Regions from separate parts of the Homo sapiens genome. Here all the other regions are linked to region 2. The links come from fine-mapping of genetic effects on gene expression. A gene starts in region 2. Each other region holds a variant in brackets. All regions are shown on one strand. Distances are between the middles of the regions. Region 1 overlaps ANKRD26 (ankyrin repeat domain containing 26). Region 2 holds the start of MASTL (microtubule associated serine/threonine kinase like). Region 3 overlaps ACBD5 (acyl-CoA binding domain containing 5).

Region 1 (10,123 bases), 77 kb before region 2:
ACCTCCACCTCCTGGGTTCAAGCAATTCTCTTGACTCAGCCCCCTGAGTAGCTGGGATTATAGGCACGTGCCACCACGCCCGGCTAATTTTTTGTATCTTTAGTAGAGACAGGGTTTCACCATATTGGCCAGGCTGGTCTCGAACTCCTGACCTCATAATCTGCCCGCCTTGGCCTCCCAAAGTGCTGGGATTGCAGGTGTGAACCACCATGTCCAGCCTAGAGATAATTTTGTAAACTCCCTTGGCAATCTTTCCTTCCTTATGATTCTATAATAGGTAGTTTATTTTAGAAAACAATAATAAATTTTGACCGCTTTCATTTGGTGTATGCGTATGTGTCCATTACATACAGATATTAATTATTAGCACAAGATAAATCAGAATATTGCAGAAATAAACAATTGCTACATTCATTTTTTTTTTTTTTTTTTTTTTTTGAGACAGAGTCTCGCTTTGTCGCCCAGGCTGGAGTGCAGTGGCGCGATCTCGGCTCACTGCAAGCTCTGCCTCCCAGGTTCACGCCATTCTCCTGCCTCAGCCTCCCGAGGAGCTGGGACTACAGGCGCCCGCCACCAAGCCCGGCTAATTTTTTGTATTTTTTTTTTTTTTAGTAGGGACGGGGTTTCACCGTGTTGGCCAGGATGGTCTCGATCTCCTGACCTCGTGATCCGCCCGCCTCGGCTTGCCAAAGTGCTGGGATTACAGGCATGAGCCACCACACCCGGCCGGGACTACATTCATTTCTCTAACAATGCTTATACTAAAATTAATTTTCCCTAATTTTTTTCCCAAGATGACAGATGGGAGGCACTGTGACCAAGACTCTCCCTCTTGGAAAGGCAAAATAGTGTGTAGGGATTTGCGCTGCAAACTTTTTTCCAAGAAGCAACACAGGACCTTAACAGAAAAACTTAAAGAAACCAGAGACCCTGTGAAAGAACAGGCGGGCAGCAGTGTACACGATGAACCAGGTAGAAAATCGTGAGCCTCTAGAGTGTGAACGGGAGAGATGGTCCCTGGAACACACTTCCACTGGGAAGCCCGGCAATCCAGGCCACGGGGAAGCCCTAACTCCCCCCGCGCTGGAGCTGACTGAGTGAGCAGTGGGGGCACACAAGAAAAAGCGGCATCCCCATATACATTGCATGCATTCCCTGACTCCAGGAGGGACAGAGGGAAGCCATTCTTGATCCTACCTCACAGGCGTCCTGCCGGAAGTCAGCCAGCTGACCCAGGCTGCCATCACAGGTGGAGAGAAGCTCCCAAATGAGAGCTGCCATATCATCTTGAGTGGGGATAACCCCATCGGCCAGAACCACAGGGTGAACAAGAAGTGTGCCCAGGCTGCAGGAGCTGGATGCCCCTTGTTCCACAGGCGGATCAGGAGGGGCATGGCTTGAAAGTGCGGTTTCTGTCCCTCAGGAAGGCTTATGGCCTGGGACAATTTTGAGTTCCAAGCACAAGCTGACTGGAATCCAGCTTGCTGCTGCCAGCAGAACCCTATAGGCGTGAGACCTGCCTTGCCAAGCCCGTGCTGCATGAGACATACTGTTGCCTGATATCCCCAGCTCCTTCTGTGGATTCTTTTGTGCAGCAGAGGCAGCTGAGCTTCTCCCTGGAACACTACTCTAGCAGCCAGGGAACTGCCCTCTGATCCCCAATGGGGCCGCTCCACTGCTTGCACCCACATGTGGGGAGCCAGAGTGTGGACTGGCCTCACCCAGCCCCCACCCGGCTTTGCCCTCCACCTGCCATGGTAGCATAACACAATGGACAGGGACTTTTGGGAGATCCATGGCCCCAACCATTGTCTGAGACTCCAGAGTATTTCCCTTGGGTAACCTAAGGCAATCAAATCCCACCACTACCACTGCAACTGGCGCTCTTTTGCAAGCGCCACCTCCTGGCTAAAACTCAACAAGCACAGCCCATCACAACGTCTGCAAGCACAATGACACAGCACCAAGGAAGTAGGAAACTTCTGTGCATCTTCAGTTAATCACCACTGCCTGCATCTTTCTGGCTAACCAGGAGGTCCTGCAACTGTCTATGTGCCCAGCACATTAATACTACAGCTGGCATTTGAAAAAACACACAAAGGCTATTTGTAATGCAGGAAATCTCACAGAGTCTACATCATTCCCCTTCCCACCCTATCAGAGCAGGTGCTGGTACCCGCTGCTGGGAGACTCGAGGACAGGTCATCTCACTGGATCCCTTGCAGACATTCCCCAGCACCACCCTGGAGTATGGCAGCCCACTGGGTGGCTAGACCCAGAGGAGCAGCAGGATTCACAGCAGCCAGGTTCTCAGGGGCTGCTACTCCCAGGGGAAGGAATGCACCACATTGAGAGGGCACCCCATGGGAAAAAAAGAAACCAGACTGCAGGCCTTCCGCTTGTGGGAAGTTTCCTTCAGCAGAGGGACAGGTGCAGTGCTGGGCTCAGTGGAGAAAATCTAAGGCTTTCCCTTAACAGGTAGCCCTGGGGCATGTGAAGGGTCTTGGAGAAGAGAACTTCTCCCTCTTGCCCACCACTGCAGACACAGCTGGGGCTTTTCCCACGACAGCATGATGTGCGTGCATCTGTAGACAGCCTTCCTGAAGCACTTCAGGGTGACTGCATCCCACAGGACTGCCCTCCACGTTCAGGCTTGCATGAGGACCACAATCCCTCTCTATATGGAACATCAGTATTCCTGAAGATTAAAAAAGGTGCCTGTCTGATCTGATTAGCTGGAACACCTGGTCAAGAGTGTGACTGGGAGGCAGACTGCTTTCCTGTGGCTCCCTCCCTTCCCCCTGAAAACACTTTAGTGCATATCACTGAGAGCTCCCCCTGCCACATTTGTCAAGGCCAAACTTGGGGTACTGCATTTATCCACCTGCTTTAGCTGCAACCAGTTTTTACCCATGGGCTCCTTCAGCCTGAGGCCTGAAATGTTCAATCCAGTAAATAAAATACTGGGGAAAAAAATGTTTTAGGAAACAGAGTAGGCATCTGAATTTTTAAGTGCACAACACTGGAGAATGAGATAAGATTCGTGAGACTTCTGCCATTCCAGTCCCACAGGAAACAGTAAACCTGCTCACAGACCCAGTACATCGTTATTACTACCAACATCTGAGAAAATCATCACACAAAGATTCTCTGTAACGAAGGAGCTCACTACTACAAGGTCTTCACTACTGAAAGCACCCAGAGCTGAAGCTAGGTGACAATAAACTATAGACATTCAAGTCACATCCTCAAGGGGGGAAAAATAAATAAAAAAAAACCCAGTCAAATCAAAAATAAATTCAAAAATAATTACAAGAAATAGTCCACCCAAATTAGAAGGAACCAGAAAAATAATTCTGGTAATATGAAAAAACAGCATTCTATAATCCCCCTAAAAGATCACACTAACTCTCCAGCAATGGATACAAAACAAGATGAAATCTTTGAAATACCAGATAAAGAATTCAAAAGGTTGATTATTAAGTTACTCAAGAATATACAAGGGCAAGGTAAAAACCAACATAAAGAAATTTTTAAAAACAATTCAGGATCTTAATGAAAAATTTTCTAAAGAGAAAGATATTTTAAAGAAAAACCAATCAGAACTTCTGGAAATGAAAGACACATTTAGGGAACTACAAAATGTAGTGGGGGGCTGGGCATGGTGGCTCACGGCTGCAATCCCAGCACTTTGGGAGGCCAAGGTGGGTGGATCGCTTGAGGTCAGGAGTTTGAGACCACCCTGGCCAACATGGCGAAACCCTGTCTCTACTAAAAATACAAAAATTAGCTGGACATGGTAGCGTATACCTGTAATCCTAGCTACTAGGGGGGCTGAAGCAGGAGAAGTGCTTGAACCCAGGGGGTGGAGGTTGCAGTGAGCTGAGATCACACTACTCCAGCCTGGGTGACAGAGAGACTCTGTCTCGAGGGGGGAAAAGAAAAAAAGTAGTGGGAAGTTTTAACAGTAGGCTATGCCAAATAGAAGTAAGAACTTTAGGGTTTGAAGACAAGGCTTTCAAATTAATCCAATCAGACAAAAATAAAAAGAATAAAATAAAATAAATAAATAAGATTAAATAAAAAGAATTTTTAAAAATAACCTGTAAAGGAAAACCTATCAGACTAACAGCAGACTTCTCAGCAGAAACCTTAACAAGCCAGGAGGGACTGGAGTCCTATCTATAGTCTCCTTAAATAGGAAAAAAATCATCAGCCAAGAATTCTGTATCAAGCAAAACTAAGTTTCATAAATGAAGGAAAAATAAAGTCTTTCTTGAACAAGCAAATGCTGAGGGAATCTGTCAATACTAGACCAGCCCTACAAGAAATATTTATAAAAGTTCTCAATGTTGAAATAAAAGGTTGATACATAACAGAATAGAAACTTCTGAAAGCATACAATTCACAAAGTTTATAAAACAATAACATAATGGAGGAAACAAAGTCACTAGGTAACAATCAACACAATGACTGGAACAGTACCTCAGATCTCAATATTACCATTGAAGTAAATGGTCTAAATGCTCCACTTAAAAGATGCAGGTTGGCAGAATGGATTTTTAAAAATCACAAGCCAAATTCTCTGCTGTTTTCAGGAGACACACCTATCATGTAAGGATTCCTATACTCTCAAGATAAAGGGGTGGAAAAAGATATTTCACACAAAGAGAAACCAAAAGTGAGCAGGAGTAGCTATTCCTATATCAGATAAAACAGAGTTTAAAGCAACAACAGTAAAAGTAGATAAAAATTGTCACTATATAACGATAAAAGGATCGATTCAACAAGAAGATCTAAGAATCCTAAATATATACGCACCTATCTTCAGAGCTCCCAGATTAATAAAACAATTACTACTAGACCTAAGAAAACCTAAGAAAAGAGATAGCCACACAATAATAGTACAGGACTTCAACACTCCACTGACAGCACTAGACAGGTCATCAAGGTAGAAAGCCAACAAAGAAACATTGGACTTAAACTGCACTCAAGAACAAATGAATCTAACAGATATTTACCAAACATTCTACCTGAGAACTGCAGAATATACATGCTTTTAATAGGCATATGGAACATTCTCCAAGATAGA[C/A]CATATGATAGGCCACAAAACAAGTCTTAATAAATTTTAAAAAACTGAAATCATATGAAGTATCTTCTCAGACCACAGCAGAATACATAGAAATCAATTCCAAAAGGAACCCTCAAAATTATACAAACATATGGTAATTCCCATTTAACTTAATGATCTGCTCCTGATTTCGGAGTTAATAATAAAATCAAGAAGGAAATTTTAAAATGTTTTGAAATAAATAACAGTGCTACAAATTATCAAAACCTCTTACAGCAAATCAGTACTAACATCACACCTCAGGAAATTAGAGAAACAAGGACAAACCAAACCCAAAGCTAGCAGAAGAAATGAAATAACAAAGATCAGAGCAGAGCTAAATGTATTTATAACCAAAAACACAATATAAAAGATCAATGAAACAAAAAGTTTGTTTTTTGTTTGTTTGGTTTTTTTTTTTTTTTAGATGGAATTTCACTCTTGTCACCCAGGCTGAAGTGCAATGGCGTGATCTTGGCTCACTGCAACCTCCACCTCCTAGGTTCAAGTGATTCTCCTGCCTCAGCCTCCCAAGTAGCTGGGATTACAGGCACCCACCACCATGCCTGGCTAATTTTTCTGTATTTTTAGTAGAGACGGAGTTTCACCATGTTGGCCAGGCTGGTCTCGAACTCCTGACCTCAGGTGATCTGCCCGTCTAGGCCTCCCAAAGTGCTGGGATTACAGGTGTGAGCCACCGTGCCCAGTAGCTTTTTTTTAAAAGATACACAGTTGATAGACCACTAGCTACATTAACTAAGAAAAGAGAGAAGATTCAAATAAGCTCAAGTAGGAATGAATGTGGAGACAGTATAACTGATACCACCGAAATACAAAAGATAGCTCAAGACTACTATAAAAACCTCTATGCACACAAACTAGAAAATCTAGAGGAAACTGAAAAATTCCGGGAAACACGTAACTCCTCTAGCTTGAATTAGGAAAAAATAGAAATCCTGAACAGACCAGTAATAAGCAGTGAGATTGAATCAGTAATTTTAAAACCGCCAACAAGAAAAAAACCCAGGGCCACACGGATTCACAGCTAAATTCTACCAGACATTCAAAAAAGAACTGATAACAATTCTACTGAAACTACTCCAAAAGGTTGAGAAGGGGGAAATCCTCCCTAACTCATTCTATAAAGCCAGTATCACCCTAATACCAAAGCCAGAAAAGGACATAACAAAAAAAGAAAACTGCAGACCAATATCTCTGATGAATATAGATACAAAAATCCTCAAGAAAATACTAGCAAACCGAATCCAACAGCACATCACAAAGTAATAATTCACCATGATCAAGTGGGTTTCATTTCAAGGATGCAGGGATGGTTCAACATATGCAAGTCTTAAATGTGATTCATCACATAAACATAATTAGAAACAAAAACTGTATGATCATCTCAATAGATGCATCATTATGAGGATTGTTGGGGCAGGGGAAGGGTACATGAAAAAAGTTTTTTAAAAAACAACTTACCTTCATAAGACCAGGGTTTGCTAACGACTTGTGGGAAGGTTTTGGAAGAAGGTCAGGTGATTGATAGGTAGGATGAGAAAAGCACTGGACTTTGATTGATGTTGTAGGAAGGCTTTCAACCACAACTTCATCTTGACTATCGGAATCTCTATCCTCAAACAAAGTTCTATTTCCTGTTCTCACAGTGCCATATGTTGCTTCTACTACAGTAAAAACAAAATAAAGAGTAAATGAAAATATATGTAATTAAGAATCAGTGAATAACACAAGAATAAGCAGTTTTCAAACAGCTTACAATTTTTCCTGGATTGCTGAGAAGCAGTCATTAGCTTTGCTAAGCTTGGTTTTGGGACATTCTAGAAAACAAAAATAAGAATAACAAGTTTTAAAAAAACAAGTATCAAATTTGATAAAATAATCGTAATAGATAGTCACCATTACTACATGATCTAACACAAAGAACAAAGATTTTGGAGTCACTCAGATGTAGATTTAAACCTCAGTTCTGCCCTTTGCTACATCTTCTCATGGGGTAAGGATTATGAGAGATGATACAGATATCCTCCAAAGGTTACTCCCCTTACCCCTAATTGATTATTATATAAATACTATGATATCTGTTCGATTATTTTCTTAACCACAGTAGCCTAAAATGAAAATTTTTTCCTAGGTAGAGTATTATAAAAGTCAAACATTAAAACATTTAAATTAATTACATATTATTTTCTGAAATGTGTATGCATGATTTATATTTGCATGAATTACCTCTTGTGAGAAAAACTGTGAGCATTTTGTTCTTAGTATATTTTATGAAAGTGGGTTGGCACTGCAAATAGTATAGGCTGCTTCTATTCTGTCAAAAAGCTAAAAATAAATGATTGTATAAATTCAGCTCCTTACAAGAAACAGAGAAAAAAACAAAAATAATCCTTGTGGGGCAATGATTGCTGAACAAAAGCCACACATAACTACATAAATAGAAAGCTGCACCTAAATATGCTGCAAATGGAGACAGACATGGACTGAAATAACAGAACTGAAGAAATGTATTCTGCAAGGAAACATTTAGGCTGAGATAAATCATTTTTAAAAGATGAAAGAGTAGGGAGAAAAAAAATAGAGGCATGACCATTCGAGTGTGAGCTTAAGTCAAGGAAGAAAAGGAAAGGCTTTAAGTATACTAAGGCACACTGAGAAACACAGACCTGTAACAGACTTTTGTTCATAGGATATCCCTGATAATACTGATTAGTATTTACAACCAGTTTTTTAAAAAATACTTCTGTAGTAAACAGTTTAATTTTAAGTCATCCAATTAGTTAAAAATGATCATCTACTACTACCTGAAAGCTGTAACATTCTTACTACAGAGAGAGAAAAATGGAAAAAGATTTTAAAATCATAGTAGGAGTGCTTATCCATATAAACTTTGACCAAATTTCATATTTCCTCTATTGTAGGAAAACTTTTCCCAATATAATTTTCCTGTCACTATGTATTTTCCAGTATATTCTTTTTTTTGCAATCCCCACTCCCTCAAAGTACTTATCAATCCTTTGTTATTTACCAAAGTAAAAAAAAAAAAAAAAAAAGAATTCAACTGGCCATATTTCTATAAAATGGCTTCCCCTGACCACCTTTCCATTACAAACAGAAAACAATGATAAGTAGACCACTGCAAAATTTTAAGAGAATACTATACGAAACTAGATTCAGAGTAAGAAAATTAAGTTCATGAGAGAGCACTTTACCTTAGTATCAAAATTGAGGTCTTCGTCATCTGAGGTAGGCCATGAATCATCAACACCCGGTTTGCCAGAAAGCCTTTAGAACAAAAATATAGAAAAATGAGTGAATTCATTTCTTTAAAAACAAAACAAAAACCAGCTTACAATTTTCAATCTGGATGCCCCCTCCAAAAAAACAAAAACCTGGTGAAAGGTCAACTGTCTGCATATTAAATGATGTTTCTTGATCTAATTAAAATTTGATCTTGTTTTTGAAAAATATTTTAGTTACCAATTGCTGCCTCTACCTCTCCGAAACTATAAAATATTCGATAAAGACTCAACCTTAGTTCTATAACTAATAGTGACAGCCAAGATAATGGCAGAACCTGGGAATACTTTGTCTTCACAAATTGTCCCGAAGGCTGAACTGAAAATCCAATTAATGGCTGATATAACTTTCGTTACCTGAACCAGCACAAACCTGATAATCTAAAACAAGGTGGAGATCAGATGCGGTGGCTCGTGCCTGTAATCCCAGAACTTTGGGAGGCGGAGGCAGGAAGATAACTTGAGCCCAGGAGTTCGAGATCAGCCTGGCCAACATGGCGAAACCCTGTCTCTACTAAAATACAAAAATTAACCAGGCGTGGTGGCATGTGCCTGTAATCCCAGCTACTAAGGAGGCTGGGGCAAGAGAATTGCTTGAACCCGGGAGGCAGAGATTGCAGTGAGCCGAGATCATGCCACTGCACTCCAGCCTGGGTGACACAGCAAGACACTGTCTCAAAAAAATAAAAATAAATAAATAGGCTGGGCACGGTGGCTCATCCCTGTAATCTCAGCACTTTGGGAGGCCGAGGCGGGCAGATCACGAGGTCAGGAGTTCAAGGCCAGTCTGACCAACATAGTGAAACTCTGTCTCTACTAAAAATACAAAGAATTAGCTGGGTGTGGTGGTGTGTACCTGTGGTCCCAGCTACTTGGGAGGTGGAGGCAGAAGAATTGTGTGAACCCAGGAAGCAGAGATTGCAGTGAGCTGAGATCATGCTGTAGCACTCCAGCCTGGGCAACAGTGCAAGACTTTGTCTCAAAAAAAATAAAATAAAATAAAATAAAATAAATAAATAAATAAATACATAAAACAAGGTAGAAAGATACACTGTCCTTTCTCCACTATCTATCTCCATTTCAAAGACTAATATGTGTCACTCAAAAATGGCAGTCTTGGTTCTTCAACATGAAAACCACTTAAGGCCTCATTGCTTCCCTTCACCCTAAAACAGTATAAGGAGTCCCCTGAAATGTGTGAAATGTTTGAAAGCTAGATGGGCAAAAGTCAAAACACATACGTATATGCTGTTATTGGGACTACTCACCCCAGAAATATTAAAACATTAAAAGTTATAAAATCCAATTATTTTCCCTATAGAGGTCCTGCCTTAAACTAGCAAGCCCTTAAAAATCTTTACAGGCACTCAGATACCTAAAGAGAAAGAATGCTGGAGAAAGAGTCCTGGTAGTTGTACCTATATTTCCCTAAGTACTATCTAAACACCTTCCTTCCTATAAGCTCCCACTTACAGATCCCTCTTCTGCAGGGCTCCATAGCATCTCCAACCTTTAAGTCTTCAGCCTATGAAGGCACAAATTCCTGAAAGGATGGTCTCAAATGCCCAAGAGTAGAAGCTCTCTATATCTCTGCTCCTGGAAAACAAGCTAAATGGAGTCTCTGTCATCTGCCAGCAGCACAGGCATGTTAACAACTACCCAACTCCATGATTTGGGTTGCTCCATGACTGAC
Region 2 (10,123 bases):
AGCAGGACCTAGCAGCTTCCCCTGGCACCACTCGTGTAACAGCTTCTCTAGTAGGACACATCCCCAGGAACAGCTTTTCCCAGTATCCTAGAGGGCAGACTTCCCAGATTTCTAGCACGTTACCCTGGCATGACATCACAGCAACTTTTCTACCATTCAGTGAGCCAAGGCCATGCCTTCGCCAACAATGTCAGGATCTCAGCCCTGGGGATGGAGAACTCTTCCTGACTCTATCTCAGCCCTAGAAGTATGAGCTGCTCCCTAAATCTGCTGGTCCTTTATTTTTTTAAGAGTTTTATTTACTTCTTAAATCCCTACCTATTCCACTTCCCTGTAAAAACAGGTGTTTTTTTTTAGATTAAACCAAAAAATGAGATTACATTTTTATATTTATTTATTTATTTATTTTTGAGACAGAGTCTTGTTGTCACCCAGGCTGGAGTGCAGTGGTGCGATCTTGGCTCACAGCGACCTCTGCCTCCTAGGCTCAAGCTATTCTCTTGTCTCAGCCTCCTGAGTAGCTGGGACTACAGGCGCACGCCACCACACCCGGCTAATTTTTGTATTTCTAGTAGAGATGGGATTTCACCATATTGGTCAGGCTAGTCTTGAACTCCTGACCTCAGGTGATCCTTGAACAACACAGATTAAAGCTGCACAGATCCACAGATACGTGGACTTTCTCCGGTCTCTGCCACCAGAGACAGAAAAACCAACCCCTCCTCTTCCTCCTCAGCCCACTCAACTTGAAGATAATGAAGATCTTTATGATGGTCCACTTCTACTTAATGAATGGTAAATATGTTTTCTCTTCCTTATGATTTTCTTAATAACATTTTCTCCATCTTACTTTATTGTAAGAATACAGTACACAATACATAAAATATACAAAATATATGTTAATGGACCCTTTATTTTATCGGTAAGGCTTCCTGGTCAATAGTAGGGTATTAGTAGTTAAGTTTCTCAGGAGTCAAAAATTATACTCAAATTTTTGACTACGGGGGAGGGACAATATCCTTAATCCTTCATTTGTTTAAGGGTCAACTGTATATCAAAAAGGCTTTCTCACACAACCAGGATAAAGACTTACCTCACTGCTGGGAGCCTCATGCTCAGGAACTACATCTCGATGCTGGTTTTGAGAAACTGACACTCCACTGAGAGAAACAGAAGTGTTTTTTGGTGTATGGAAGGCATTGATGAGATGACTCAGAGGAACTGTAACCTAGAAAAAGATAAAAGTTAAAAACTAAGTAGTTTTTTTTTAAATAAACAGAACAATCTCCTTTTTTTGTCAGGATTTGTTAAGAGTTAAAGGTACATTATATATCAACTCTGTATACTAAAAACTGTAAGTACTCAGATTTACTGCTGGTGAGACGAAAACTGGTATGTTCTTTCAGGATATTATTCTGAATATGTAAATCAAAAGTATCAAAAATACATACATTTCTTGTTTGTAGCAATCCACCTTCTAGGAATTTATTATAAGGAAATAATCTGACAAGTACTTGCACATGCATAGAGAACAACTCTCATCGAAACATTTAAAAAATAGTAGAAAGCTGGAAACATCCAGCATTAGGGGAGCGGCAAAACAAATGATACCACTGGTCGAGTGCAGTGGCTCACGCCTGTAACCCCAGCACTTTGGGAGACCGAGGTGGGTGGATCACTTGAGGTCAGGAGTTCAAGACCAGCCTGACCAACACAGTGAAACCCCATCTCTACCAAAAAATACAACAATTAGATGGGTGTGATGGTGTGCGCCTGTAGTCTCAGCTACTTGGGAGGCTGTGGTAGAAGAATTGCTTGATCTCAGGAGGCGGAAGTTGCAGTGAGCTGTGATCATGCCACTGCACTCTAGCCAGGGCAACAGGGTGAGACCTGTCTCTCAAAAAAAAAAAAAAAAAAAAAAAAAGAAACTACCACAGAATGAAATACATCCAACATTTAAAAAAAAAAAAATAGTAAGTAGGCCGGGAATGGTGGCTCATGCCTGTAATCCCAGCACTTTGGGAGGCCAAGGCAGGTAGATACCTGAGGTCAGGAGTTCGAGACCAGCCTGGCCAACGTGGTGAAATCCCATCGCCACTAAAAATACAAAAAAATTGGCCAGGAATGGTGTTGGGCGCCTGTAATCCCAGATACTTGGGAGGCAGAGGCAGGAGAATCACTCGAACCTGGGAGGCGGAGGTTGCAGTGAGCCAAGATCATGCCATTGCATTCCAGCCTGGGTGACAAGAGCAAAACTCCATCTCAAAATAAATAAATAAATAAAAATGAAAACAAAAAAAACACTTGAGCCCAGGAAGTTGAAGCTGCAGTGAGCTATCATGCCACCACACTCCAGCCTGAATGACATGGCAAGACCCTGTCTCAAGAAAAAAAAAAATTTACTTAATAAATATTTGTTGAGTAAATGAATACATTAAATGGGTTCTTATTATATACCAGGTTTAGTACTACAGGCTTTACTTCTATCATCCCATTTAATCCTCAAACAGCTATAATAATGAGTAACAATTATACTTCTTGTTACAGTTCTGTCAGAGACTTTTGAACCAGAGTGACTCCATCTGGAGTAGGGGCAAAATGAGGGTAAATGAGGCTGAGACCTACTGGGTTGCATTCCCAGGAGGTTAGGCATTCTAAGTTACAGGATGAGATAGGGTGTGGGCACAAGATACAGGTCATAAAGACCGTGATGATAAAACAGGTTGTAGTAAGGAAGCCAGCCAAATCCCACCAAAACTAAGATGGAGAGGAGAGTGACTTCTGCTAGTCCTCACTGCTCATTATGTGCTAATTATAATGCATTAGCATGCTAAAAGACACTCCCACCAGACCATGACAGTTTAAAAATGCCATGGCAACATCAAGAAGTTACCCTATGTGGTCTAAAAAGGGGAGGAACCTTAGGGGTCCCCCTTTCCCTGAAAACTTATGAATAATCACACATTGTTTAGCATAAAATCAAGAAATAACTAACTGTAGGTATCCTTCGTGGACAAGCCCAAGCAGCTCCTCTGCCTATGGAGTACCCCATTCTTTACTCCTTTACCTTCTTAATAAACTTGCTTTCACTTTATAGACTCTCTCGCCTTTTTTTTTTTTTTTTTTTTTTTGAGATGGAATCTCGCTTTGTCGCCCAGACTGGAGTGCAGTGATGCAATCTCGGCTCACTGCAACCACCGCCTCCTGGGTTCGAGTGATTCTCCTGCCTCAGCCTCCCGAGTAGCTGGGACTACAGGCGCAGGCCACCACACCCAGCTATTTTTTTGTATTTTTAGTAGAGATGGAGTTTCACCATGTTAGCCAGGATCTTGATCTCCTGACCTCGTGATCCGCTCGCCTCTGCCTCCCAAAGTGCTGGGATTACATGCGTGAGTCCCCGCGCCTGGCGACTCTCTCGAATTCTTGTGCGAGATCCAACAACCCTCTCTTGGGGTCTGGATCAGGGCCCACTTCCAGTAAAAATTCCAGTGTTTATCTCCTTCAAAACTCAAGTTTGAGTTGAGAACAATGGCAAACTTAGTTGCCACTGTAATCCTGTTAAGAGGTGGGACCTTTAAGAGGCATTTAGTTCAGGAGGGCTCTGCCCTCATCAATGGACTAACGCCATTATTGTGGGTACAGACCATTTAATAGATGAAGACAACAAAGATTTAGAATCTGACTCAAAATTCCAGACTTCTCATCCCATGGATATTGATACACAAATAAATTCGTGACATACTAAGGAATAAAGCTGACCGTAAAACTACCTTAAGTATGCATACCCGTGGGGGCGCGGTGGCTCACGCCTGTAATCCCAGCACTCTGGGAGGCCGAGGCGGACGGATCACAAGGTCAGGGGATGGAGACCATCCTGGCTAACACGGTGAAACCCCATCTCTACTAAAAATACAAAAAATTAGCCGGGCGTGGTGGCGGGCGCCTGTGGTCCCAGCTACTTGGGAGGCTGAGGCAGGAGAATGGCGTGAACCTGGGAGGCGGAGCTTGCAGTGAGCGGAGATCGCGCCACTGCACTCCAGCCTGGGCGACAGAGCGAGACTCCATCTTAAAAAAAAAAAAAAATTAAAATAAAAAAAAGTATGCATACCCGTGTTTGTTTATAGAAAAAAATGTGTGAAAGAATTTAGTCTAAGATACGTATCCCTGAGTAATGAGATTATGGGCGATCTTATTTATACTTTCAGCATTTTTAGCAAAAAAACATGGATTTGTTTTAAGGCTAGTCAAGTGAAGCAATGTATCATTTTTAGAGTCAGAAAGAAACAGTAAGTTCCTTACAGCCTGGGGGCAGTAAAAAGAAAAAAAAATAAACAGTAACTTCTTTTGAAACTTTAAAAATAATCAAATCATTTCAAGATACATATTTTCTACCTCTTTGAAAAGATTTATTTGAATTAGTTATATCTCTTTTATTTGAATTAGTTATATCTCTTTTCTTTCACAAAAGGATTTAGAGTTGAGCTCTTCTCAATGAAAAAGTTCATTTTCTGTGTCTTCCTTTTTACCATTTAATTTCAAGTGTATTCAACCAATTAAGCAACAAGGAATTCCAAATGTGTTACCATCCTTCAAAGCAAGAAATGCCTGAGAGTCCTCACTATATTTGAGCCCTGTTAAGACTGCCTAGGGTACATAAAAATCCCTTTATCATCTCTACCAACATCACATACTACTAACTGTCCATTCAGTTGATGGTAAATTCTCCTAAAATCAGGCCTCTTGATGTGAACTAAGGCAAAGAGTTGAGTTTCAAAAACTTCAATACCATATTCAATAGGCCATGTCAGACTTCTTTTTCAAACAATTACTAGGACTTCTCCAGACACTGTCATCTTGGTAAATAGCACCTTCAATGCATTCATCTGATCAAACCCAGAAACACCTCTCCCCATCATCTCTCTGATCTCTCATGCAATTCCACTTTCTTCAAAATATATCTCATTCTCTTCTTTCCATAACCACTGCAACAGCTTTAATTGGGGGGTGGGTGGGTATTTTTAGCTGATAACATCTTCCACTCTTGCCCTCTCCTATTCTCCATATAGCAAAAGCCAGTCATCTCTTAAAAATGAAAATCTAATCATGTTTTAAAACTTTCAATGGTTCCCAATACACTTAAAATGAAATCAGCCATAATATATCCTTTACTCCCTGTATGATCTGCCTCAAGTCTTTTCTCCAACCTCTTCTGTCACTACCCCCTTTAACTACTATGTTCTAGCCACACTAGCCTTATTTTTGTTCCTTCAACCTGCTAAACCCTTTCCTAACTCAGGACCTCCAGGTATTTTTCTGTATGCCTGTGATACCTGTTCACTCTTCACCTTGCTAAGTCCTACTCATATTTACTTCATATCAATATTAAGAGAAGATTCCACATTTGCTTTGCTCACCTGGTACATAACTGATGCCCAATAACAAGCAGCTGCTTCAGTTTGTTAGCCAGTACTAGCACAAAAAATTAAAAATTCTTAAAATGAGGGGGAGTAAAAGTTACACAAAGGAACACAATCATATGCTTAAATCAAGAACCTAAGAGTGTCGATTTTCTTAAAAATTATGTTTTAAAAAAACTCAATGTTTTAAAAACTATTTCTTTGCAAAACTGTAGGAACTCTCAAAAAATCTATTAAAATGTTACCATCAAAAAAAGAGACTGGAATGAAGCAAGAATAAAACATTGTCACAAGTGATTGCCCAAGAGCGTAATGAAAACCCTTGAAATCATTTTTCTCTTCACTACCTTTTGTTTTACAAAACGATGAGGATGAGGCTGAATCAAAATTTTAACTGCAAACAGTTTACGACTCGGAAATACACATTTTAGTTACTTCTGGTCAAAATGAGAAAAAAACTTGCATGGCTGGCCATCCGAAATATTATACCATGTTTGGGTTAAATTTAAATTCCATTTAAAAGGAAATAAAGAGCAGGGGATAGGGGCTGTGAACACTAAAGCCACTGGAAAGTCGGAAAAAAGGGAACATTACCTGCTCCCTTTAATGTATGGTACAGACATTTTCCCACCCCAGAACGCCGGACACTGAACAATGCCGGACGGATTCTCTAGCAGAAATTCCACGCAATCAGTTCGATAAGCCAGGGTCTCTCTCTATCACTGAGCTCACATCCCGCCTCTGCCCTCAACAGCTTCATCGTCAGCACTGAAGTCTCCGGCCCACTCTCAGCGTCGTCCCCTGATCCACTCCTCAATCCTGGGATTCGCATTGAGTACATCACTTCATTTCTAGAGTCCCTTCTGAGAAATCGCTTCCACGAGCGCAATTTGCAAACAGCCACGGGCAGGGCGGGAGGAAAAAAAATGGGCTGAATGCCTGGCTTACCTGGGGTTGCACCGTGCTCGACAAGGAAAACATCTCCGGCGGGCCCTCAGCGACCTCACCCGCCTGCCGAAACTGTGCCCCTCTGTCCACGGCCCGGCGGGGAGGCGCTGAGCCCTTCTTTTTTCCTTTTTCTCCGACCCGTTGCCCCTCACTCCTCCCAGAAACGGAAAATGGCCTCCCCTTCCTACAGCTACTGCAACGACAGACAATCCGCCCCGGAAGGCGAGGCGCTAACTCAACAGTACTTCCGGGGCAAGTGAGCGCCCACAAGGCCAAGTGCCTGCGCGTTCTTTCCCGCGGAAGTAGTTGACATTTACAAGGAGCAGCGCCCCCAAAGGTCTTTAGCTGTTTTTTAAGGGGAGAACAGCCTTTACCCTCTTTGGACTTTTTCTTCGTTTTTTTTTTTTTTGGAGACGGAGTTTCGTTCTTTCGCCCAGGCTGGCGTACAGTGGCGCGATCTCGGCTCACTGCAACCTCTGCTCCCCGGGTTCAAGCGATTCTCCTGCCTCAGCCTCCCGAGTAGCTGGGATTACAGGTGCCCGCCACCACGCCCGGCTGATTTCCTCTTAAGACTTTCTACAGCTTCCTTATGAAATCTTCTGACTGGGCCTTGAGCAATAAGGTCTTTTGCTACAATTTAGTGCTCTTTTCCTCACACTAAATCGAAAACTCTCCCTGTTGGTCCTGATCTGTTTCAGTCAGGCAAATTACATCCTGGGAAAACGTCAGATGACAGGGGAGGCCACTCGCTTCCTGCTCATCCAGTTTCGACACTTTCTGTGCTTTCATTAGCTTCCAGACCTCAGCCCTGGCCCTCGCTTTACTGTACAGTCAGAACTGGTTTCTACGCCTCGCGAGGGTGGGAGGTCGTGTATGGGAGGAGGACCGCTTCCCACCAGCCTCGTTGGGAAGCCAGGAGAAATCTCTTCAAATCCTGCGATTCAGAGTCAAGTCCCAGTCGTCCTTTTTCTGGTCGGCCCAGAACTGTTTGTGCCTCCTCCCTCATGAGGAATGATGTCAGTGGGGCCGCGGTCGCCGCCCACGAAGAGTGTAAGGCTGCGAAGTCGGGGCTTTCCCGACGCCCCCTCCGTCCGCGTCTGCGTAGGGGAGGTGACGAGGGCGGGGCGCGGCGGCGGGGTGACGTCACGGCCGCGCGCGGCGTGGGCGGAGCCTCACTTTGAACCCAGTTGGCGGGAGTGGCTGCTCGCGGAGGGGCAGTGTCTGCGGGGCCGCTGTATGCTGTCCAGCGATGGATCCCACCGCGGGAAGCAAGAAGGAGCCTGGAGGAGGCGCGGCGACTGAGGAGGGCGTGAATAGGATCGCAGTGCCAAAACCGCCCTCCATTGAGGAATTCAGCATAGTGAAGCCCATTAGCCGGGGCGCCTTCGGGAAAGTGTATCTGGGGCAGAAAGGCGGCAAATTGTATGCAGTAAAGGTAGGAAGTCAACGAGTAGCAAGGAAGGGGTTAGGCCCTTCGGCCCTCCTTCCTGCCCCACCGGCTTGGGCAGGCCCCGGGGTTGCTGGAGCGAGGAGTCTGGGTGGCCTGGCTTGCTGAAGCCTCCAGAGCCCTGCGAGCTGACTTCTTTTTGGGGCGACATCAGCGGTCGGGTCGGGTGTCTCGCCTCTGTTCCGCCCTTCCCTCCATATCTCAGATGCCCAGTGAGAACAGCAAAGTTTGACTCTCTTCTCCCTGCCCAGCGTTAGCAAATGAGGAAACTGAGGCCAAAGGCAAAGGGACTTGACCGAGGTGATTACATCGGTCTTAGTACAACAGGCACTTAAAGCCAAAGCCGTGATTCGTAGTCTCACCCTGGCTTGAGTTAGGTTTCTTTTTTATTTTTTTTTGAGGCGGAGTCTTGCTCTGTTTCCCAGGCTGGAGTGCAGTGGCGCAATCTCGACTCACTGCAAGCTCCGCCCCCCGGGTTCACGCCATTCCCCTGCCTCGGCCTCCCGACGAGCTGGGACTACAAGCGCCCGTCACCACGCCCGGCTGATTTTTTGTATTTTTAGTAGAGACGGGGTTTCTTTAGTAGAGACGGGGTTTCACCGTGTTAGCCAGGATGGTCTCGATTCCCTGACCTCGTATTCCGCCCGCCTCGGCCTCCCAAAGTGCTGGGATTACTGGCGTGAGCCACCGCGCCCGGCGAGTTAGGTTTCTAAATCCAAAAGGTTTTTAGTAATTAGTGGTTTTGTTTACCTTGTTTGCTTTGACGTGCAGAATCGTCGAAATTTTTCTACCACAGAAGAGTGATTAATCTGTAGGCACTGATAACTTTTTAAGTTTTATTCTTAACCAGAAGAAAGATTACTATTTTCTGAGAAGTCTTTAATAATTTTTTTTTAAGACAGTCTTTCTCTGTCGCCCAGGCTGGAGTGCTGTGGTGCAGTCTCGGCTCCCTGCAGCCTCTGCCTCCTGGGTTCAAGCGATTCTCCTGTCTCAGCCTCCCGAGTAGCTGGGATTACAGGCGCGCGCCACCATGCCTGGCTGATTTGTGTAGTTTTTTTTTTAGCCGAGATTGAATTTAGCCAGGTTGTTTTGGTTATGTTGGCCAGGCTGGTCTGGAGCTCCTGACCTCAGGTGACCCGCCCACATCGGCCTCCCAGAGTGCTGGGATTACAGGTGTGAGCCACCGCGCCCTGCCCTGCTATGAATTTTTTTTTTTTTTTTTTTGAGATAGAGTTTCACAGTGACGTGATCTCAGCTCACTGCAACCTCCACTTCCCGGGTTCAAGCGAGTCTCCTGCCTCAGCCTCCCGAGTAGTTGGGATTCCCGCCACCACACCGGGCTAATTTTTTGTATTTTTAGTAGAGACGGGGTTTCACCATTTTGGGCAGGCTGGTCTCAAACTCCTGAGCTCAGGTGATCTGCCCGCCTCAGCCTCCCAAAGTGCTGGGATTACAGGGGTGAGCCACCGTGCCTGGCCTTATGCTGGTTCCTTTTTAAGTGCTTTTCTTCTACCCTTTTGTGCTCTTCTCCACCTGTCTTATTCATGTATTAAGATTCATCTTAGCTCCCCTTCACACCTTCCCTAATCTTTCAGAATTGGAAGATCTGATTGAATTGGTTACTTTATATGTTCCTGAGATTTTTACTTTTCCTTCTACAGTACTTAGTCATGATCAGTTGAAATGAAAACACCAATCCATGTGTTCAGTCAGTATTTGCTTAGCACCCACCCTCTTTGTGTCTACGAACTGGACAACAATGGGGAACAAAACACACATGCCCTCATAGCCAGTGGAATGATAGGAAAAATCATGTTACCAGCTTGCTTTGTCAGTTTCCCTCAGTTTTCTTAAAGAAAGGAGTTAAGGCAGGAATTTATCATGTACTAATGATTTTATTAAGTACTCGAATAAATCTTTGAAAGAAATATGCCTTTTTTTCTTATAGCAGTCCTGAGAATTGATCCCAGTGTTACTGACTATTCAGTTTAGTGCTCCAACTTTATTTTTATTTATTTATTTATGTATTTTTAATTTTTCTTAGTGCTCCAACTTTAATAGTTCTGTTTCTGTACAGATTACCTTGAAACTTGAAAAGAGTAATTAGTTTTCTGTAAGACAGCATTTGGGACTGTTAAATTTCAGTAGTTCTAATCATTCCAACTTAAGATTTTTTTTTTCTAGGCAAACTTCCGACATTCTTCCTCTTTCTGATTCTATCCCCATCTATCAAAAAATCAGAAGTTAAAAAAAAAAATTAAGTAGTTACTCCACGCCCAGGTGCTAGTTATCTGTGGGCTTATGAGGAATG
Region 3 (10,123 bases), 41 kb after region 2:
ATCGGGGAAATGTTCTCTGAGCATATTCCCAATGCACAAGACAATGGCCTTGAGTGGAAAGTTACACTGTTTACTAACAGACCTAGCATGTGAAGCTATAGTCACTTGAAATTCAGCCACAGGTAAGGCATGCTGTAATGGTATTTATTGGGAACAGGTGACTTATTATCTAAATTTATACCTGTCAAGATGTAGATTCAGACACTTGCTAGGGAAAAACCTAAGAGGAAAGAACAATGGGAAAAAGGGGATGGTTTTGACAGCTGATGTATATGTGTGCATGCACGTCTTTAAAAAACACCAACGGCCACCAATAGAAATCCACTCATCTTTTGCTATGAAGGAAATCAGAACATATCATCCTAAAATGCCTCTTTGACATAAAAATATTTTTGAGCTAAAGGCAGTTAAGAAGCAGCAAACTGAGGAAAGCTCTCGCCATCCCCCTGCCTTTCTGCCCAAAGGCAGGATATAACTTCTCCTTTGCTGGAGACAATTCTAGAGTCTTATCTACCAGGGACAGCACCAGAGGAATTGGCAAAGAAACCTTATTCAATTAGTTTCCTCCCACATACAGTGTTTGCCTTCCCAAAGGTTCCAGTCCTTGGAAGCCTAAAACCACTTTCCTTTGTCCTGTCATTTCTCTACAAATGTATTGTTCTTTGTTGGCCAGGCTGGTCTCAAACTCCGGACTTCGTGATCCACCCGCCTCAGCCTCCCAAAATGCTGGGATTACAGGCGTGAGCCACCCGGCCAGCTATATACAGTTTGTATTAATAAAAAATAATTTGTGGCTGGGCATAGTGGCTCACGCCTTTATTTCCAGCACTTTGGACAGCCAAGGTGGGATGATTGCTTGAGGCCAGGAGTTAGAGACTACCCTGGCCAACATAGCAAGACCCTGTCTCTATCTAAATTTTTTAAAAACCGTCATTCTCAGCAAACTATCGCAAGGATAAAAAACCAAACACCGCATGTTCTCACTCATAGGTGGGAATTGAACAATGAGAACACATGGACATAGGAAGGGGAACATCACACACTGGGGCCTGTTGTGGGGTGGGGGGGAGGGATAGCATTAGGAGATATACCTAATGTAAATGACGAGTTAATGGGTGCAGCACACCAACATGGCACATGTATACATATGTAACAAACCTGCACGTTGTGCACATGTACCCTAGAACTTAAAGTATAATAAAAATATATATATATATATATAAATAAACTTTTGTTTTCACAACGGCATAATGTTTATTGGATGAATTTAGAAAAAGAGTAAAAAGAAAAAATAAGTTGGTATCTGTTAAAGGAAAATGTTTTATTCTTACATGAAAAATGCAAAATAATAGATGTGACTTGTTTTCCTTTGGAGCTCCAAAATAAAAATATCAGTAAACACTTATCTAAAAAAATAAAATAATAATTGTTTTTTAGGCTGGGCATGGTGGCTTACGCCTGTAATCTCAGCACTTTGGGAGGCTGAGACGAGTGGATCACAGGAGGTCAGGAGTTCGAGACCAACCTGGCCAACATGGTAAAACCCCGTCTCTACTAAAAATATAAAAATTAGCCAGGCATGATGGTGCGCGCCAGTAATCCCAGCTGCTCGGGAGGCTGAAGCTGGAGAATTGCTTGAACCTGGGAGGTGGAGGTTACAGTGAGCCAAAATGGCGCCATTGCACTCCAGCCTGGGTGACAGAATGAGACTCTGCCTCAAAAAAAATTATTTAAAAATGTTTTGTCCCACCCCCATTAAATGTTAAACAAATCCAGAAATTATGTTTGAAGAATGTCCTGTTTATCTTGGCCCACCTATGTTAGAATTAAGTAAGATGAAGTACATAGCAAACATAAAAGGTGTTTAATAAAATGATAATTATTTGAACCCTAAGTACCCTACTGCCTCCTGGAATATGTACTTTAATTTTGGGTTCGGGAAGTGGTAACTATATAAAGCCTTACTATTATGCTCCAAAACATCTTGAAGGACATTCGGGTCTAATTCCTCTATTTGCTACAAAGAACTGTCTTATTTTTAGCCATTTATAAAAATGCTGAGAGTCCAGAATATAGTACAAATATATTTACTGTTTACACCAGGTCTTTCAATTAATACCAAGCCAACCATGGATGAGTCATTCTTTTAACTGTGTGGAAAGTGTATTGTACGGGACAACATTTGAAGGAAGGAGACTGAATAAAAGGCTTCTGCACCAGCCCACCTGGATTCAAGACATATTTTAGAGGTAGGAGCAACAGGACTTTACTGATATATGGGATGAGACAGGTGAGAGAATGGAAGAGCCACATTTGACACCTAACTTCTGGCTTGAGCAGTTGGGTGGATTGTGGTGCTGCACCCTGAACTGGAATGAGGGACAGGATGGGTAGACATACTAAGTTTGAGATGTCTGTGAGACACCCAAATAAAGAATTCAAGAAATCAGTTGGACACCTCCAAATAAAAATGGTATGTCTGCAAATTCTTTTACACTCTTCCTTCAACAGGTGAATGAATAAACAGAGGCACATCTATATAATGGGCTATTATTCAGCGCTAAGAAGAAATGAACTACAATGAAAAGACACAGATGAATCTTAAGTGCATATTACTAACTGGAAGAAGCCAGTCTGACAAGGCGACACACCGTATGATTCCAAATATACGACACTGTAGAAAAGGCACAACTATAGAGACAGTAAAAGGATCTGTGGTTGCCAGAAGTTAGGAGGGAAGGATGACAAGGTGGAGCACAGAGGATTTTTTAGGGCAGTGAAACTACTCTGTATGATATAAT[G/A]GTGGATACATATTTTAAATTTGTCAAAACTCATAGGATGTACACTAAGAGTGAGCCCCATGGTAATGATATGTCCATGTTGGTTCATCAGATGAAACAAATGTACCACTCCACCAGATGTTGACGGTGGAAGAGGTTGTGCAGGTGGGGCGGGGGGAGAGGAGGGTAGAATATGGGAGCTCTACTTTCCACTTGATATTGTTGTAAACCTAAAACAGTTCTAAAAAAGTCTATGGCCAGATGCGGTGGCTCACGCCTGTAAGCCTAACACTTTGGGAGATCGAGGCAGGCAGGTCACCTGAGGTCAGAAGTTTAAGACCAGCCTGGCCAACATGGTGAAACCCCATCTCTACCAAAAATACAAAAAATTAGCTGGGTGTGTGGTGGTGGGTGCTAATGATCCCAGCTACTCAGGAGGCTGAGGCAAGGGGAATCACTTGAACCCGGGAGGCAGAGGTTGCAGTGAGCAGAGATTGCACCTCTGCACTCCAGCCTGGGTGACGAGAGGGAAACTCTGAATCAAAAAAAAATAATAACAATAAAGTCTATAAATAACCTAACAACGCATCTTAACTAGGAAAGCAAAAACAAACCCAAAATTAGTAGAAGAAATAATAAGATACAGCAGAAACAAATGAAACTGAAACTCCCCAAAATACAAAAGATTTTTAAAAATGAACTTGGTTTACTTTGAAAACAAAATCAACAAACCTTTAGCCAGACTAAGAAAAAGGAATACCCAAGTAAATAAAATCAAAGATGGAAAAGGAGACAGGACAACTGATACCGCAGAAATATGAAGAATCATCAGAGACTACTGGGAATAAATATATGCCAAAAAACTGGAAAACCTACAAGAAATGGATACATTCCTTGACACTTTTTTTTTAAGTCTACATCCAAAGTAGGGATTGTGAAAAAAAAAATTTATAATAATGAAAAAAAAAGTCTACTGGGGGCTGGAGATGGGGTGGCTTAAACACTCTCTCTCTCCTAGTTCCATGAAATAAATCCCAGAGAGTAACTGACTGCTGGTTCTATGCCCATCACTGTGATGTCACTGTGGTCAGGAGAATGGGATATAAGCTGACCAGGCTGAGTCACATGTCCATTACTGTGAGTCACGATGGGGCAGCAATGGGCATAGCTGGGTGTTCCATTTAGCAGCCTCACCAGAATCACTGGATTCTCGTGGAGGAGGAAGAGCGCTCCAAGGGAAGAGGGGAGGGGACAGAAGAGAGGGGAAAGGGTGACCAGTAAAATTTAAAAAATAACTGATACTCCCTTGCCTGATTTTATGTAGGTATAAAAAGTTCTCTTCAGGCTTGGCACAGTGGCTCACAGCAGTAATCCCAGCACTTTGGGAGGCCGAGGCGGGTGGATCACGAGGTCAGGAGTTCAAGACCAGCCTGGCCAATATGGTGACACCCTGTCTGTACTAAAAATACAAAAATTAGCCGGGCGTGGTGGCGGGCGCCTGTAATCCCAGCTACTCAGGAAGCTGAGGCAGAGAATTGCTTGAACCCAGGAGATGGAGGTTGCAGTGAGACGAGATCACACCACTGCACTCCAGCCTGCTGGGTGACAGAGTGAGACTCCGTTTCAAAAAAAAAAAAAGTTCTCTTCAACACATGTTAAAGAATTGAAACAAGTGAGGAAATTTCTCTATTTCTCTTTTTTTATGTTTTTCTTTCTTTTCTTCCTTCCTCCCTCCCTCCCTCCCTTCCTCTCTCTCTTTCCTTCCTTCGTGTGTGTGTGTGTGTGTGTGTGTGTGTGTGTGTGTGTGTGTGTGTGTGTGTGTGTGTCTTGCTCTGTTTCCCAAGCTGGAGTGCAGCGGCAAGTTAATCACCTGAGTTTGAGACCAGCCTGGCCAACATGGAGAAACCCTGTCTCTATTAAAAATACAAAAAAATTACCCAGGCAACGTGTCTGGCACCTGTAATCCCAGCTTGAGAGGCTGAGGCAAGAGAATTGCTTGAACCTGGGAGGCGGAGGTTGCAGTGAGCCGAGATTGCGCCACTGCACTCCAGCCTGGGCAACAGAGCGAGACTCTGTCTCAAAAGAGAGAAAAAAAAAAAGAACTGATAAGAACTGATACTACCCTTGATCTTAGCCAAAAGGCTAAGAAGTGATTAAATAATTTTGTATACAAAAATATAACTATGAGAGCCAGTTCTTGCCAATGAGATGTGAGGAGTCTCCTGTGTGGGACTTTCAAGAAAGTTACTGTTTCCTGATCAGATGGAAAAATACAACTGTTAATTGCTTTCTGCGCTTCACTCTGTGCCTGCCTATAATGTAGACATTAGATCTAAATGTACTTCACTATCTTGCAAGCATGAAGATAAAAGCTACACACTAAAGATGGGAGAAAGAAAGACAGGAGGAGCCTGTCTACCTAATGGCATTGTGGAAGCACCTTCCCGGCCCTGGACTTCTATCTCCAGACTTATATCGAAGGAAAAGACCCAGTTACTTGGTCAAGCCACCACAGCTGGGTTTCTATTACATGAAGCAGAATAATGATACCTTAAATGATACATCACTTTTATTACTCTGTAGAAGTTACAAGTCATAGATGGGTATTAAAAACAAAACCCAGGCCAGGCGCGGTGGCTCACACCTGTAATCCCAGCATTTTGGGAGGCTGAGGCAGGTGAATCACCTGAGGTTGGGAGTTCAAGACCAGACTGACCAACATGGAGAAACCCTGTCTCTACTAAAAATACAAAATATTAGCCAGGAGTGTGGCATATGCCTGTAATCCCAGCTACTCAGGAGGCTGAGGCAGGAGAATCACTTGAACCTGGGAGGTGGAGGTTGCAGTGAGCCGAGACGGCACCATTGCACTCCAGCCTGGGCAACCAGAGCGAAACTCCGTCTCAATTAAAAAAAAAAAAAAAAACCCTCTCATCATTTTCCACATAAGACCAGAGATGTGTATTTAAGATGGTTGATTAGGGCTGGGTGCGGTGACTCACGCCTGTAATCCCAGCACTTTGGGAGGCAGAGGCAGGAAGATCACCTGAGGTCAGGAGTTCAAGACCAGCCTAGCCAACATGGCAAAACCCCGTCTCTACTAAACGTACAAAAAATTAGCCAGGTGTGGTGGTGGGTGCCTGTAATCCCAGCTATGTGGGAGGCTGAGGCAGGAGAATCACTGGAACCTGGGAAGCAGAGGTTGCAGTAAGCTGAGATCACACCACTGCAATCCAGCCTGGGCGGCAGAGCAAGACTCCATCTCAAATAATAATAATAATAATAATAATAATAATAATAATAAGATGGTTGATTAGGGTTCATTGTGTGGCTGTGGGAAGCTATTTATTTGGTGTAAGAACTGAAACCGGCTGGGTGCAGTGGCTCACGCCTGTCATCCCAGCACTTTGGGAGGCCGAGGCGGGTAGATCACGAGGTCAAGAGATGGAAACCATCCTGGCCAACGTGGTGAAACCCCGTCTCTACTAAAAATACAAAAATTAGCCGGGAGTGGTGGCACGTGCCTGTACTCCCAGCTACTCGGGAGGCTGAGGCAGGAGAATCGCTTGAACCTGAGAGGCGGAGGTTGCAGTGAGCCGAGATCACGCCACTGCACTCTAGCCTGGCAACAGAGCGAGACTCTGTCTCAAAAAAAAGTAAAACCAAGAATCTGACTGGATTGCTAATATTCTCAACCAGATGACTAAATAAGTTAAATTTCATCCCAGTTTCTGATTTTTATCAAATTGTGTGGAATAGCATGGCTTTATTTTGAGAGTCATAATTACTTTATGTGCGACTACTACTTACTCTCATTGAATTCTTACCTAATCAATGGGCTAATAGTAACAAGTAATAAAAGCCATATCATTTCTCATTAACCTTTTATTTTTAACTTAGTTTTACAATAAACAGAAAAGAAGTTATCATTAAAAAAATACCATAGCTGTCAAGTTTAAATGAGGTTCTTATTAAACAAAGCAGGAACACTATATCCTATAATTACATCTTTACTTTTATATACAAGAACTGTGTGCAAAGTGCTTTTCAAACTATAAAATAAGACTTTGGAACAGGATAGAAATGGTTATCCCTAGGAGTTAGTTATCCCAGACTGCTTGTAATGATTCACAACTGCTTACACTCTTAATTTGCATTTTATTTATTTATATACTAAGAGAAAAGACACTTTTTACTGATACCAAATTGATATCTCATTTTTGAAAATAATCTTTGATCCACAGGTCTAAATGTTATTTTTACATATAAATTCAGTTGCTTGCTTCACTTTTTCCTAAATAAATAGGGAACACTTTTTTAAAAGCAAATAGTAGTAGATCCCTTTAGACAGACATATTTTAATCAGTATGGGATTAAATAATTAAAGTTATTTGAAAGAAAAAAATAAGGAAAAAGAGTTTGGGAAAAGTAAATTGTATTCTTATACTTTTCAGGCAAACAAAGAACCATTCTGTATACTAAAGACAGATTATTTCTTATTTAAAACACTGTGAACATATGATGTTAAACCCAACATCATACATCTTGAGAATGCTTAAAAATTATTTGCTACAGGCCAGGTGCAGTGGCTCACGCCTCTAATCCCAGCACTTTGGGAGGCCGAGGCAGGCAGATCACCTGAGGTTGGGAGTTTGAGATCAGCCTTACCAACATGGAGAAACCCCGTCTCTACTAAAAATACAAAATTAGCCAGGCATGGTGGTGCATGCCTGTAATCCCAGCTACTTGGGAGTGAGGCAGGAGAATCACTTGAACCCAGGAGGTGGAAGTTGCAGTGAGCCAAGATCACGCCATTGCCCTCCAGCCTGGGCAACAAGAGAGAAACTCCATTTAAAAAAAAAAATTATTTGTTACAAAGACTGCATCAAAGAAATCTTCAAAGCACAAGGTACATCTAAGTGAGCAGGAAGTTTTGGAAGGCATACAGGAAAAGTCTCCAAGGATCTAAATTGTAGTCTTCTTTTTGGTCTAGATGAGAGAGGTGGGGAAGAGGGACTTAAATTTCTGTTAGCTGGGCATGCCTTATTCCTATGGAAGCATTTGGCCCGTTAGCTTGCAAATCCCTCCAGTACTCCTGTGAAGTAGGTGTATCTAAAATAGTATACCCCGAAGGAAAAACTGAGGCACTAAGAGGTTAAGAGTCCAGTCTATATAGTTCATCAGTTGCAGAAAAGTGATTTTCGTGTGTTTCCTTTTTGACTGTTGTAAAAACAGTATAAATAAGTTTTCATTTTATATTTCAAAGCACCCTATGAAGCAGACACTAGATATCCTCAGTTAAACAAAAATGATTACAAAGGAATACATTTATATGATTGAATAAAAACCTGATTAATCATCTACAGGCTCAGAATACACTTTTAAACCTACATGAAGCTCATTCTTCACCATTTCCATCAGTGGGTTATGTCTAGCCTGCAAATCATTTGTAAAAACTCAGTCTGGTACATAGGACTCCACTTTTTAATAATGATGCCTGAACACCAAACTCAAGAGTTGTGAATGCCCAAGAAAGATTATGGGCAGCCCACAAAGTGAATATGACCATTCTTCCTGTGGTTTTCTACTACATGCCATGGCAACTCCGTGACTAAGATATAAAGTCGATTACATCTCATTTGAAATTCACTCCTGGTTTGCATTCTTTCTTTTATTTAATTTAGAAAATTAAAAATAATAACTTATAAATTTGATCTCATTATCACAATGGTACCTTTGAAAAGCAGCTTATGTTACTCTATGGAAGATAATCAGGTAAACATGTTACCAAATGATCATTAATAATTTAATGTCCTTCAAGTTCAAGGGCAGGGTAAATCTGTGTATACTACTTATAACCTAGTAGAGATTGATTATTCAAGTATCAGCAATATTAGTCCTTAAAATGTTATCGTTTGTGTAGTGCAAAATATATATGTGTATATATGTACACAAACTAAACTACTGGACAACAAAAAGCAATGTAATCATCACAAACTAAGATTTTCTTGTGAACACCACAATCCAGTTCATTCTGAGGTCATCCAGTTCCAGTAGTCTTCTTGAGGAAAACACCATTTTCCTCAGTTCAGTTTTCTTTAAAAAGAAAATAAAAACCAATTTCCTGTGAGTATGAATGCAAATAATTCTCTGGATGGTAACATAATAATAATAACATACAAATTCAAAATAAAACCATAATATTACCAACAGTCTTTATAGAACTACATCATATGACTTGCAGCCTGATAGGAAAGATCCAATTACAAGTGCTGAAATTACCAAACAGTTTTAAATTATTTATTTATTTATTTACTGGGGCAAAGTCTTGCTCTGTCGTCCAGGCTGGACTGCAATGGTGCCATCTTGGCTCACTGCAACCCTCCGCCTCCCGGGTACAAGCGATTCTCCTGCCTCAGCCTTGCAAGTAGCTGGCATTACAGGTGTGTGCCACCACACCTGGGTAATTTCTGTATTTTTAATAGAGACGAGGTTTCGCCATTTGAACTCCTGACCTCAGGTGATCTACCCACCTCAGCCTCCCAAAGTGTTGGGATTACAGGCGTTAGCTATGGCGCCCAGCCATCCTGGCCAGTTTTTAATAAATAATTTAAATGTACATTCATCCTCTCTTACTTTCTAGATTCTTACCCTTTTCTAATTGGCTATTACACAATTAAGATTTGTGGAAATGATTTCATAATTTTATCAAAATGGAAAAGTTATGAAACAAATGCGTAACAAAACTGTAAGAGGATAATAGATGTACGACCTGGAGTATTCACTTAATCAACATGGATTATGTTTCTATTACTTTCCAGGCTCTGTGCCAGGCCCTGGGCATTCAGAGATAAATGAGGCAGGCTCTCAGGCCTCAAGACAGCTCTCAGTTTAGGTGGTGGGGGAGGAAGAGGCATATAAATCCCAAACTTGGATATATATAATATGATGGTTTCAAAGACAGAAGAGTGAATGAGCTATCAGAAAAGGCTGAGCTTGTTAGCACCTTACACCATCACATATGATCTGAGTTCTGCTCTAAAATCTACAAACCCTCCCCAGCACTCAAGATGCCAAAATGCCTGAAACTCTCATAACAGATTGATTCCTCTCTGTAGAAATACCCTTATGCAACTCCTTTGGCAGGAGTGATATTTTAAACAATCAGATCATTCCTTATCCTCTGCAGAAATCCTCTTATGTACACCTCCTTGGCAGGAGTGACATTTTAAATAGTCAGATCAACTTTCACAAAACAGAAGGAGATCCCAGCAGCATAAAGAAAACAGGCCCCTGGAGGAAGAGAATTGAAATGGTTGACAAAGACAAGAGAGATGTGGGTT

Evidence for each region. PIP is the estimated chance that this variant, and not a neighbour inherited with it, causes the effect. A credible set is the group of variants that fine-mapping cannot tell apart.
Region 1: its variant is the best candidate, but not a certain one, in a credible set for the expression of MASTL in tibial artery (GTEx, PIP 0.74).
Region 3: its variant is the best candidate, but not a certain one, in a credible set for the expression of MASTL in tibial artery (GTEx, PIP 0.89).

The regions. Positions count from the first base shown.
Region 1 is chr10:27,070,746-27,080,868 of GRCh38, forward strand. It overlaps ANKRD26 (ankyrin repeat domain containing 26), which reads right to left. Exons shown (of 34, transcript NM_014915.3): 7 at 8,344-8,416; 8 at 6,888-6,948; 9 at 6,593-6,795. Among named protein-coding and RNA genes, the nearest start is that of ANKRD26, 25 kb to the right of the region's middle. RefSeq lists enhancers at 1,775-2,308, 7,272-7,441. The variant C/A (reference allele first, on the strand shown) is at 5,093.
Region 2 is chr10:27,147,813-27,157,935 of GRCh38, forward strand. MASTL (microtubule associated serine/threonine kinase like) reads left to right here and starts at 7,540. Exons shown (of 12, transcript NM_001172303.3): 1 at 7,540-7,800. The coding sequence starts at 7,615. YME1L1 (YME1 like 1 ATPase) reads right to left here and starts at 6,572. Exons shown (of 19, transcript NM_014263.4): 1 at 6,366-6,572; 2 at 1,094-1,228. The coding sequence starts at 6,398. RefSeq lists enhancers at 7,302-7,361, 7,982-8,231 and silencers at 7,422-7,631, 7,429-7,627.
Region 3 is chr10:27,188,567-27,198,689 of GRCh38, forward strand. It overlaps ACBD5 (acyl-CoA binding domain containing 5), which reads right to left. Exons shown (of 13, transcript NM_145698.5): 13 at 6,648-8,876. The coding sequence ends at 8,864. It also overlaps the pseudogene RNU2-24P. Among named protein-coding and RNA genes, the nearest start is that of MASTL, 38 kb to the left of the region's middle. The variant G/A (reference allele first, on the strand shown) is at 2,802.